2 linked regions of the Homo sapiens genome follow. The protein of the gene in region 2 interacts with the protein of the main gene of each other region in a biochemical or structural test. Each region holds a gene or a part of one and is shown on either strand. Other genes may lie near its edges.

Region 1 (3,660 bases), on a different chromosome or scaffold from region 2:
GCCCGGTGTGGTGGTACATGCCTGTAAACCCAGCTACTCGCGAGGTTGGGGCAGAAGAATCGCTTGAACATGGGAGACGGAGGTTGCGGTGAGCCAAGACCACACCACTGCACTCCAGCCTGGGCAACAAGAGCAAAACTCCACCTCAAAAAAAAAAAAAAAAAAATTAGCCACGTGTGGTGGTGTATGCCTGTAATCCCAGACACCTGGGAGGCTGAGACAGGAGACCCGCTTGAGTCCAGGAGACCGAGGTTACAGTGAGCCAAGATCGCACCACTGCACTCCAGCCTGGGCAACAGGGCCAGACTCGCTCTCAAAAAAAAAAAAAAAAAAAAAAGCAAAAAAACTTCCTCCAGGGAGGATGGACAGGGTCGGGGCCCCTCTCTGAAACCACCTGTGAGCCCTAGCAGCTGAGCTGAGCCGCTCCCCCTCCAGGGCCACCTGCATGTGGCTCCAGACGGGGCAGGGGCTCCCACGTGGGACACAGCAGCATCCCGTAAGGCGCAAAGGGACAGGAAACGCTTCTGATCCACCTCAGCTGCCCAGAGCTTCCACCTCATTGCAATCAAAACACTCGGGGCAGCTGAGACCAAGATCCGGCAGCTCCCAGGACACCGTGAAGGTCTGCGAGGACCCCCGGTTTGTCCCCTCCTTCCTGAGCACAGCGGCAGGCATGGAACACAGAGAGAAACATGAACGCCGCGGAGGGCATATCCCCAGTGGCCAAGGGCTGGCTGTCCCCTGCCAAGGCCTGAGGCACACAACACCCGCGTATCTGGAAGCCAGTATTTTATTTCTCTTGGCTGCAGAGGGCCGCTCTTGCCTAGGCGTCCACAGGCGCGACGATGGGGCTCGCGGAGGAGTCCGCAGCAGGGCACCCCACACCCGGGGGACCGGCCTCGGCGAGAAGGGCACACAGTGGAAGACCCCACCAAGCCCGGCGCCACCCAGCAGCGTGGGGACTGCCTGTCCGCCGTCCATCCCACCCTCCCCGTCCCACGACCTCCTCCTGGGCTAATGGCAGCAACAGGCAGCACCCCGCCGAATTGTCCGTGCAACTACCCGCAAACCCTCCTCCGGGCCTGAACCAGGGCTGCATTCGGGCCGCCTCTGCGCCTCGGTGGGTCCCAACCCTCACGGTGCCACAGGCCACGCTGCCTGGAGGGTCCCAGGGTCACCGACGATGCAGGGGTGAAGGTGAAGGCCAGCGTGGAGGCTGTGTAGAGAAGCAGCCCCGTCCCACACCCACCCCTGCCTGCGAACTTACGGGCCTGGCTCCAGCTCCTCCCACTCCGCCTCCAGCCTGGTGGCGCTGGGCAAGGACAGGCACCCGGGCGATGGGAGGCGCAGCGTCCACAGGAAGCGCCCCCACCGCAGGCCGAGCTCCGGCTGTCCTGGGGCCTGGCCCACCCCACTGCGCCTAGCGCAGCCCGCACTCCACGCCCTGCAGCTTCTCCTGCTCCAGGGCGCGCACGAGGTCCTGCACGAAGCGCATCTCGGAGGCTACTTGCTTGGCCAGCGCCTCGTAGCGGTTCTCCAGGCGGCTGAAGCGGCGCTTGAGGCCGCTGGTCCCCAGCAGCGCGCCCTTGGCCTCCTCCTGCGCCTGCCGCTTGAGCGCCTCGGTCTTGAGCAGCTCCTGCCGTAGCCTCCGCAGGTCCTGGCCCAGGCTGTCGCTCTCCTCGCGGTACCAGGCCTCCTTCTCCTCGTAGATGGCGGCCAGCGCCTCCACGTCCTCGTGGCAGAGCCGCCGGCTGCGCTGCAGCTCGCGCAGGCCCTCCTCGGCGGCCGCCGCCTCCTCCAGCACCTTGGAGAAGCGCTCGAAGTCGGCGTAGCTGTTGTTGGGCGGCAAGCTGGAGTGCGACTTGATGGTGTACTCCTTCAGACGCGTGGTCTTCAGGCGCCGCCGCTCGGGCTTGCGGCCGCTGTCCTCACCACGCACGTTCCGCCGCCGGATCGCCTAGGAAGGAGGGAAGCCTGAGCGGGGTCCCCGCGATGCCACCCAGCCCCGCCAGCCCCCACCTGCCAGTGTGAACTGAGGTTCAGGGGCTCATCCGGCAGCAGAGTCAACGCCTCGTGACGGAGACTGCCCAGCCCGACGCAAAGCCGAGAGTGCTCTCTCGAGAAAAACGCTGCGGCCCTGGCCCCAGGAGTCAGCCCCGTTGGACACACACCAGCCAAGGATGCCACCAGGTCTGTCGGGTGCTGGACATCCCACGCCCAGGACCCAACCCCCGCCACACAGGCTCACTCCTCTGGGGACCCTCCCCAGCCACTGGGGGTTGTCACATCCACAAGCCTTAAATGCTGAAGGCCCCCCGGGACCCCAGCGAGAAGGCCAAGGCGGGAAGCCCAGGGAGCTCCCCCACCTCCCCACTTACCTTAATCCAGGAATGTTCCAGGCTCTGGGCAATGGTCATTCTCCGCCTGGAAGACCCCCGCTCTGGTTAGGTACACCTGCACCATCTGTCCCGTCCTCCCGTGAACAACTGACTCCCGGGACCCCCAAAAGCCCTAAAGTCGCCCCCCAGCCTCTGCTCAGCCAACCACAGAAGCTGAACAAGGGTACTGCAGGGAGCGTGGGGTTTTCTGGGGGGTGGTGGAGAGAGCTGAGACCTCAGGCTGGAGTCGCAAACCCAGGCGCCCGAGAGAGGGACTGGGCGGCCATGGAGGCCCGGGGAGGCCTACGAGTGAGGGCTCAGCACTGCCAGAATTCTAAGTGTTTACAGGAAAACAAGTGACCTGGAATTTTACATGGATCCTTACTTTACACACCGGCAACTAATTAAAAGTTTGCTAAAAACACAGCAAGCAGCCAGACACGGTGTCTCACGCCCGCAATCCCAGCACTTTGGGAGACCAAGGCAGGCAAATCACAAACCAAGGAGGTCAGGAGTTCAAGACAAGCCTGGGCAACATGGTGAAGCCCTGTCTCTACTAAAAATACAAAAATTAGCCAGGCGTGGTGGCGGGCGTCTATAATCCCAGCTACTTGGGAGGCTAACGCAGGAGAATAGCCTGAACCCGGGAGGCAGAGGCTGCAGTGAGCCGAGATCACGCCACTGCACTGCACTCCAGCCTGGGAGACAGAGCAAGACTCCGTCTCAAAAAAAAAGACTCCGTCTCAAAAAAAAAAAAAAAAAAAAACCATGGCAATGGCCAGCTTGGGCCACCAGTTTATCAGTTTACTCTCTCCAGCCCAAGGGGTAAGCAATGTCTGATCCCCAGCCGCAGGGAGGTGGCGCTGGGAGGAGAGTCCTCTGGAGCCTCCGTGGGTGGAGTGGGCCTGTGTCCCATGTCCCACCCCGTGCCCCCTGCCGGCCCCTCGTACTTGGGATCTTTGACGAGCAGCCGGCGAATGAAGTCCTTGGCCAGCTCGCTGGTGTTGCTGAAGTACTCCTCGTCGAAGTCGTAGTTCACGGCTGAGATGTTGGTGAGCGTCTCCTGCTTGGTCTCGCCCAGGAACGGGGATGCACCGCTCAGGCTGCGAGACAGGCGTGGGGGCTCAGTGGGGTCCTGGGCTCCCACCACGGCCGCGCCGCCTCTCCGGCTGCCCACGACAGGCGGAGCACAGAAGACAGGCTGACGGCAGGTGCCTGGGCCACTCACACTCCTGAGCCCTTAGAACCTTCCTGCAACGATCCCAGACACCACCCAAGAGGC
Region 2 (7,894 bases):
AATTTTTATATATACTCAAGTATATAAGTACAATTTGAAATAAGTAAAAACAAGATTCATAAAGTGATCATAATTGGCAGAATAATAACCACTAGCTCTTACCTCACTCTTCCTCCTCCACTCTAAAAAATAAACTTTGGTTGTGAGAATAACACATTAGCTACTAAAAATCACAGATAGAAAATGGAAATGACAAGGAGATGCTGACATGGAGTCCAGTCATCATTCAAAACTTTACAAGGTTATTGGAGTTGACTTTGGGGTATTCAAAGCTGCAGTTGCGAATATATATGTAATACAGATAGAACATATATTATAATACATATGTATATATGTACATACATATACAATATATACACTTAAAAACCCTCCTATATTTCAGTAATGTGTAAAGGAATAGGGCAAAATGTAGCAAGACTATCAGCAAGCAGGGGAAAGAATACTTTACAAATACACATTGGAATCAACCTTTTATCTTCAGATTAGGGGTTCTTAAAGAGGTTGTGATGATGACAGAGTCATTCATCCTGCTTCTTTTGGCAAGAACAATATTTTAAAATATGTGCTTTGGTGGCAAAGGCAAAGCTGACAAGAGAGATAGATGTGGACACTGGAGAAACAAAATAGCCCTAACAGTGAGCACACTGTGGTCATTTCAAATGCCCAGAGTATACTAAAAGTATCTGAACATGTAAATTACTCATATATACACAATGAAGGCAAACATACTGCCTTGTTCCAAGTGGGATGAAAAAAAATTTTAATTTCATTAACTATATTAAAAGGATATGACAGTACCTTTAGGAAGATCCAGCTCTCTGCTAACGATGAACAAAATACATTATAGAGGTGCCAAATCATTGCTGATAAACACCTTTACATAGACTGCGATGAGAGTGAAAACAGACCACATGTAATATGCGCAATGATATCTTTTATCACAATACACTTTCCCCCCATTCATTACATACAAATTTCTTGGAGAAAACCTACATAATTATGAGCAAGCAGGGACAAAAAAGGAATTCATCGTTTTCCAAAATGTGCATACTAAAAAAAAAGGGAAGGGTGTGGAATCATTCCTATTCATGTTTCCTGAAGCAAATACAAAGCACGCAGATGCAAACTCCACACAGAAGCCATGTATGACCAAAACATGTCCCCACGTCTCCCCTTCTCCCTCCTTCAATCCCCAACACTCAAACACAAAATGGCAAGTTTGTTTTCTAAAATTATGCAGAACACACACTGCTAATGGAAAATTACAGTTGGAAGTCTTGGCTTTTCAAAGTTTATGAATGAGGGAAGTTATTTCTCTTAACTATATTGCTGGAATTTTTCCACTCTCATTTCAATTCAAAATACAGCGTTTATTCTTCTCTCAACTTCCCATGCCCCTCCCTTCACATCTTTCTAAGTCACCTTCAGACCAGCTCAAAGTTTCAATCTAAAAAGACACTAAAAGCTCATTCCTTAGACCTCCCTACTGTCCCGTGGTTAATGCTACTCACATTTCACATTCCTTTATTTAGCGTAAGAAATGTAATTTATTCTTTCTTTCCACACACATACATGTATTTCTTTAAGGAAAAATACATTATTTTCAAGTATCGTTCGCTTTGGAATTCTTAAACATGTAGTTTTTTCCGTGGAATAATCTTTAAGCCTAATTCGAAGTTTTAAATATGTTAACTAAACCAGCACGTGGCATCAATAACTCCTAAATGACTGCAGGGCTTGTGCACGCCTCAATTTTCAGCAGTTGTTCCTGATTCACATCTGCTTGGAAGACTTTTGCCTCGTTTTAAAAGTCATCTTTTGCGTCCAGTGGAATAACGGCTAGAAGTCCTGATGTTAACCTTCTACAGATAAATGTAGCCCCAAGGCGTTAATGAAGAGACCCGCTCTTTTTCAGGGTGAAAGAAGGGAATGGAAGATCTTGTCTGTGAGGCACAGCTGGGAGGGTAACAGCTCTTCAGCGAATGATCCTAGGATCTCAGTCTCATCAAAGCCGAAAATGAAAAAGCACATGCCCCGGCCCCTACCCCCTGGGCTTGGATGCGGCCCCAGAGAAATCATCCTTCCAGGTGGGCCTTCGGTGTGTTACCTCCTCCACCTGCCCTCCCACCCACCCTTCTTTTCCGCTCCCCCCCTCCACACTGAATACACTGGCTTCTCAGGTATAAGGTGAGCATCCCCACTTCTAGGCACCCCGAGGGAATGCACCCGAGAGCCCTGGCCCAGCTCTGCACCGCGCGCTCTGGGCTGTGCCCCGCAGAGACGCCCCGGGCGAGCCAGGGCGGACTGCGCTGCTCCTCCGGGACGCGCGATGCCGGCAGGCGAACGCCCACCTCTGCCCTAGGAAGCCAGTGACACCGTCGGGGGGCGGGGGTTAGGGCAGCGCCAATCTAAGCGGGACATAAGATGCAGGAGCGGCAGAACCCGCAGAGTCCCCAAAAGTGCACAAGCAAACCAGCTTGTTCACGTCGGCTGGGTCGCCGAAGGAGGCTAAAGTGCAGAGTGACTGGGGCTGCAGTCACCTCGCGACGACCGCCCCGAGGCAGTCAACACCTGCGGAAGGGAAAGCAGTGAAAGGCACTCACCTCCACCCATCTCTGAGCCTCAGCGAACGCCACGGAGCAGTTGGCCTCTGCCTCCTCCAGCCCTTCCATGGCTAGGACAAGGGAGGGAGAGAGAGACTCGGGATGCGTGGAGGGGAGGGGTTGTCCCCGCGCGTCTGGGCCCCACGGGCGGGGAGGGCACGCGGGCCTCCCACAACTCCGGCTTCCGCTCCGGCTGCGAAGGCGCCGGGGCTCTAGTTCCCTTTGTTGCGCTCTGCAGTTCGTTAAGGTCTCGAACCTACACGAACGTGAAGACCTGGCTTTCTCTAAACTCCTGAAAGCGACCCAAGGCCCGCGGGGACCCGGGCAGTCAGGCAGGACGCGGGAAGCGAAGCGGGTGCCCAGCGGCAGCGCGCGGCACCAGCCCCGACGACAGTTTGGACTTCAAAAGTCGCAGCGCCGCCGCCGTCCTCCCCGCGGTGGCCCCGCCCCGGCCCACCCCACCGCCCTCCCGGGGCCCGCCGAGTCGCCGCTTCCGTCTGCCCCTCCCTTGGCTCCCCGGGCTCCCGGCCGCGGCCGCCTCTGTGGTCAGACTGTCTGGCCCGGGAGATGCCACAGTCCGCCAGGGGCCGCGGCCCGGGCCCCGCTGGGGTTCCCGCACAGCCCGCGGCTCCGCCCCGAGAGGATGCGCCCCCGCGCCCGCATCCTTCCCGCACCCGCCCGCCTGGCCCCTGCCCTCTCCCGGGCCCCTGAGAGCGGCGCCCCTCCCGGCTCGCGGCCGCCCGGCCCGCTTGACATACCAGAAATAGCTGCACACAATTGTACCTTTCCCGGCCAAGAAACCTCCCCCGCTGGGGAGCGCGGCCCGCCGCCCTCACCTGAGCCCCGGCCAGCTGAGCCCGCTACCCGCTCTCCCGCCGCGATCCGGCCCAGCCGCCAGGTGAGCGCCGTCCCCTCCCACGCTCCCCGCCCCCTGCGGCGGCCGGGCCCTCCCGGCGGCAGAGGAGGGTCGTGGCCTTGGCACGTGCTGCCGCTTCCCCCCGGCGGAGTTCGGCCCCGCTCCGCCCGGCTTCCAGGTGGGTGCGGTGGAAGGAGGGTCCCTGCCCCTCCACCCCGGCTCGCGGCTGAGGGTTCGAGCAAGCTGGAGGGTTCCTTGCATTCCCCACTTCCCGCCCGCTCAGCCCAGTTTAGGCCGTTTGATGATCGCCCTCGCGGTGAGCGTCAAAATTCCCACCCTTCGTGGTTTGAGGACACTCAGGGGACAGCGAGGTGGCAGGTTATGCGGTATCCGCCGCGGCCCTGGGTAGGTGTGCAGGGCCGGGGGGTTGGGGGCGGGGCGGGAGGCACACGGGTCGGCTTGCGCGGGTCTTTTTCACACCAGTGCTCAAATCAGGTCTCCACAAAGGAGCCTACTCATCTGTCTGAGCTCCCTGGTCCCTCACTCCACGCTCCTGAGGCACTATCCAGGCCACAGGTTGATGGCTTCATCTTTGGCGGAAGACAAAGACCGGTTCTTACTCTGCTGAAACGAAAGCAAACTCTTGTTCTTATTTTTCTGGTTGTTTTTATGAAGAAAAACGTCAGATACAGAGCAGAGACTAGTAGAATACTATCTAAAACCTAGCGTCTGTATTTAACAACTGTTTGCCTTTTGCCTTATGTATCACCTTTTCTGCTGGAGGGTTTTATTTTTTAATTTTTTAAATTGTATTTACTTTCTGTTTGTTTTTGTTTTGTTTTGTTTTGTTTTGTTTTGTTTTGTTTTGAGATGGAGTCTCACTGTTGCCGAGGCTGGAGTGCAGTAGCACCGTGTCGGCTCACTGCAACCTCCGTCTCCTGGGTTCAAGCAATTCTCTTGCCTTAGCCTCTCGAGCAGCTGGGATTACAGGCGCCCACCACCATGCCCAGCTAGTTTTTATATTTTTAGTAGAGACGGGGTTTCACCATATTGGCCAGGCTGGTCTCGAACTGACCTCAGGTGATCCACCCACCTCGGCCTCCCAAAGTTCTTGTTTGTTTGTTTGTTTTTGAGGAGTCTCGCTCTGTCGCCCAGGCTGGAGTGCAGTGGTGCAATCTCGGCTCACTGCAAGCTCCGCCTCCCGGGTCCACGCCATTCTCCTGCCTCAGCCTCTCGAGTAGCTGGGACTACAGGCGCCCGTCACCACGCCTGGCTAATTTTTTTGTATTTTTTTAGTAGAGACGAGGTTTCACCGTGTTAGCCAGGATGGTCTCGATGTCCTGACCTCGTGATCCGCCTGCCTCGTCCTCCCAAAGTGCTTTGATTACAGGCGTGAGCCACCGCCCCCAGCCGTTCTTGTTTGTTTTTTAAGTTTTTTAAGAGACAGCTCTGTTGCCTAGGCTGGAGTGCAGTTGCGCCATCATAGCTCCCCGTGACCTTGAACTCCTGGGCTCAAGCGATCCTCTTGCCTCAGACTCCCAAGTAGCTGCGACTACAGGCAAGTGACACCACACCCAGCTAATTTCTGTATTTTTTGTAGAGAGAGGGGTCTCACTATGTTGTCCAGGATGGTCTCAAACTCTGACCTCAAGCAGTCCTCCTGCCTTGGCCTCCCAAAGTGCTGAGCCTGGTGGAGAGTTTTAAAGATAGGAGATTTCACCCCTAAATGGTACAATATACATATCATTTTTAAAAGGACACTCTCCCACTTTGGGAGGCAGAGGCGGGTGGATCACAAGGTCAGGAGTTTGAGATCATCCTGGACAACATGGTGAAACCCTGTCTCTACTAAAAATCCAAAAAAAAAAAAAAATTAGCTGGACGTGGTGGCACTATTTGGGAGCCTGAGGCAGGAGAATCGCTTGAACCAGGGAGTCAGAGGGTGCAGTAAGCCAGGATCACACCACTGCACTCCAGCCTGGGGACAGAGCGAGACTCCGTCTCAAAAAAAAAAAAAAAAAAAAAAAAAGGAAAAGACACGTTCCTACATAAACATAAATAAACATAATGCTATTTTCACACCTAACTAAAACTAACAATAATTATCAACTCATATCAAATTCTTCCAACTGACCCAAAAATGTCTTTTACAGCTGACTTACTCAGACCAGGATCCAATCCATGACCACCCATTGCATTTTAGCACATCTTTTTTTAACCCAAAAGAGACTCCTCCTCCTCCACACTCCCCCTTTTTTTGGAATGACATTGCCTTATTGAAAAAACCAGGCTGTCTTCTGGATTTATCTTAGGCTTCTTTGTGGTGTCTTCAACATATTTCTCTTCTTTCTGTACTTCCTGTGCTCTGGAAGTTAGCTCTAAAAGCTAGATTGGAACCTATCTCTTCTGAGTAAACAGTTCACCACCCACATTCTTCCGTACTGGGGTGATGGTTTTTGTTTGTTAGGCTCATTTTTGTTCAACTACTTTTTATTGGCACTATCTCTAGTCTGTGGGTCCGTTTAGAAAAGCTGATGAGCAAGCTTCAGGAATACAACTGTTCCTGCTGAAAGGGAGGCCACTGACTGAACCATCTCTTTGCCTCTTGGCTGCACTCTGATCAGGCCAAACCCCAAAAGAAAATGGAATGATGAAAGAAAATGGAAAGATATTTCTCTCTTGTCGGCTATTCAAAAACTTTTAAGTGCGGCGAGGCACAGTGGCTCACACCTGTAATCCCAGCGCTTTGGGAGGCCGAGGCGGGCGGGTCACTAAGCCAGGAGTTCAAGACCAGCCTGGCCGACATGGTGAAACCCGGTCTCTACTAAAAATACAAAAAAAGTTAGCTAGGTGTGGTGGCAGCCACCTGTAATTCTAGCTACTTGGGAGGCTGAGGCAGGAGAATCACTTGAACCCAGGAGGGCAGAGGTTGAAGTGAGCCGAGACCACGGCACTGCACTCCAGCCTGGGCAACAGAACGAGACTCCATCACAAAAAAAAAAAAAAAACTTTTAAGTAATTAGTGAATACCTCATATGTGCTAGATGTTATAAGTGACACAAAATTTTAAAATTCTAGATGCTGAATCCTATGCACTATTCAGTCCAGTAGGACATTCTGCAAGCTTCACAAGAATTATTATTATTAGAGTTAATATATACATACATTACACTATTTAAAGCTGCTGCTGTGTAACTAGCTTTGGGGGCGGCAGCCCAGAATGTTAAGAAGTGCACAGCCTTGGGGATCTGAATGCCTTACAATATTAGCAAGCTACCAGAATCACTAAGCTTCAATTTCTTCATCTGAATAATGGATAATACTTCAAAGGATTGTTGTGAGAATTAAATATGATGGTGGATATAAAAGCCCAAGGCATTGCTTAGCATAGAGTAGGCACTCAATAAATGAAGGTTGAAGGTTATTTCCCTTTGGTCTCTCTTTCTAACAGTGTGTCAGATTTTTCCTAAAAAATGGAGATTTCATGTATTTGTTCAAATAGTTATATGGAAAGGCTGGAGGGTTTTGCAAATCCTGTTTCAAGTCAGCTCAGGCACCAATCACTGCTTGGCCTCTTTAATGTTGAAAGTTTGCAACTCAGAAGACCCAAATATAATTCTTTGCCTCCTAATATCAGTCATTAGAATGTTTTACCCTTCTGGAAAGATTTCTACAGCTCTATAGAGAAAGGTACAGCACCTGCCTTAGGAGTTTGAGATGAAATTCACAACAATAAAACATCAAAATTTGTATTTATTTTTCAAAGGAATTTGAGATACCTTTCAATATTTAAAAATGTAAAACAGTACAATTGTCATGTATTGATGCATTACTGATGAACTCTTGATGGGAGAAAGGGGTACAATCTTTCTGGGAGGTCACTGGGCAATAAATATAAAAAGTTTTTCAAATGCCCACACTCTGTCCCAGCAATTCCACTTCTTGGAATTTATACCAAGGACCTAAGCAAACATATATGCACAGAATGAGTAACGGCGGTAGACACAGAGATGCCCCATAGGAGTGTCATATGAGGACTTGCTTCACAGGAGGACTTGCTACTTGCTGCCCAGCCTTGGAGAGTGTGGTCAACAGATACCCCCAGCTATCAGCTCCTTCAAAGTTGGCCTCAGCTGCAGAGTGCAGCCTCACGTGAGGTCCTTCCCCTCCCAGGACAGCCCTCATCTGGTCAGTGAATGACTTAAGATTATAAAAGCCCAGCCATTTCCACCCAATGGGACAACACTGATAGGCCTTTACAGTAGACCCTGGGGTCTGCTGAGGCTGCAGGACTGTACCACAGTTCACCTCCCTCACCCACCCCTGCTTCTTCCCTCTTCCTTTCACAGGGATCCAGCCCTAGTTAATATCTTATACCTCCAATGCCATTTCTGTCAGCTTCTAAAGACTCAACCTGTGATGGCATCAAGCATGA

What was found.
Region 1: of the proteins of LMO7 (region 2) and DAPK3, one has a biochemical effect on the other in vitro, tested with the Homo sapiens proteins (one study listed by BioGRID).

Annotation. Positions count from the first base shown.
Region 1 is NC_000019.10:3,957,681-3,961,340, forward strand, and holds the end of DAPK3 (death-associated protein kinase 3), read right to left. Parts: intron 3,482-3,660; coding exon 3,329-3,481; intron 2,425-3,328; coding exon 2,379-2,424; intron 1,958-2,378; coding exon 1,421-1,957; 3' UTR 773-1,420; downstream 1-772. UniProt on the Homo sapiens protein: Serine/threonine kinase which is involved in the regulation of apoptosis, autophagy, transcription, translation and actin cytoskeleton reorganization. Involved in the regulation of smooth muscle contraction.
Region 2 is NC_000013.11:75,631,436-75,639,329, reverse strand, and holds the start of LMO7 (LIM domain only protein 7), read right to left. Parts: upstream 3,001-7,894; 5' UTR 2,673-3,000; coding exon 2,604-2,672; intron 1-2,603.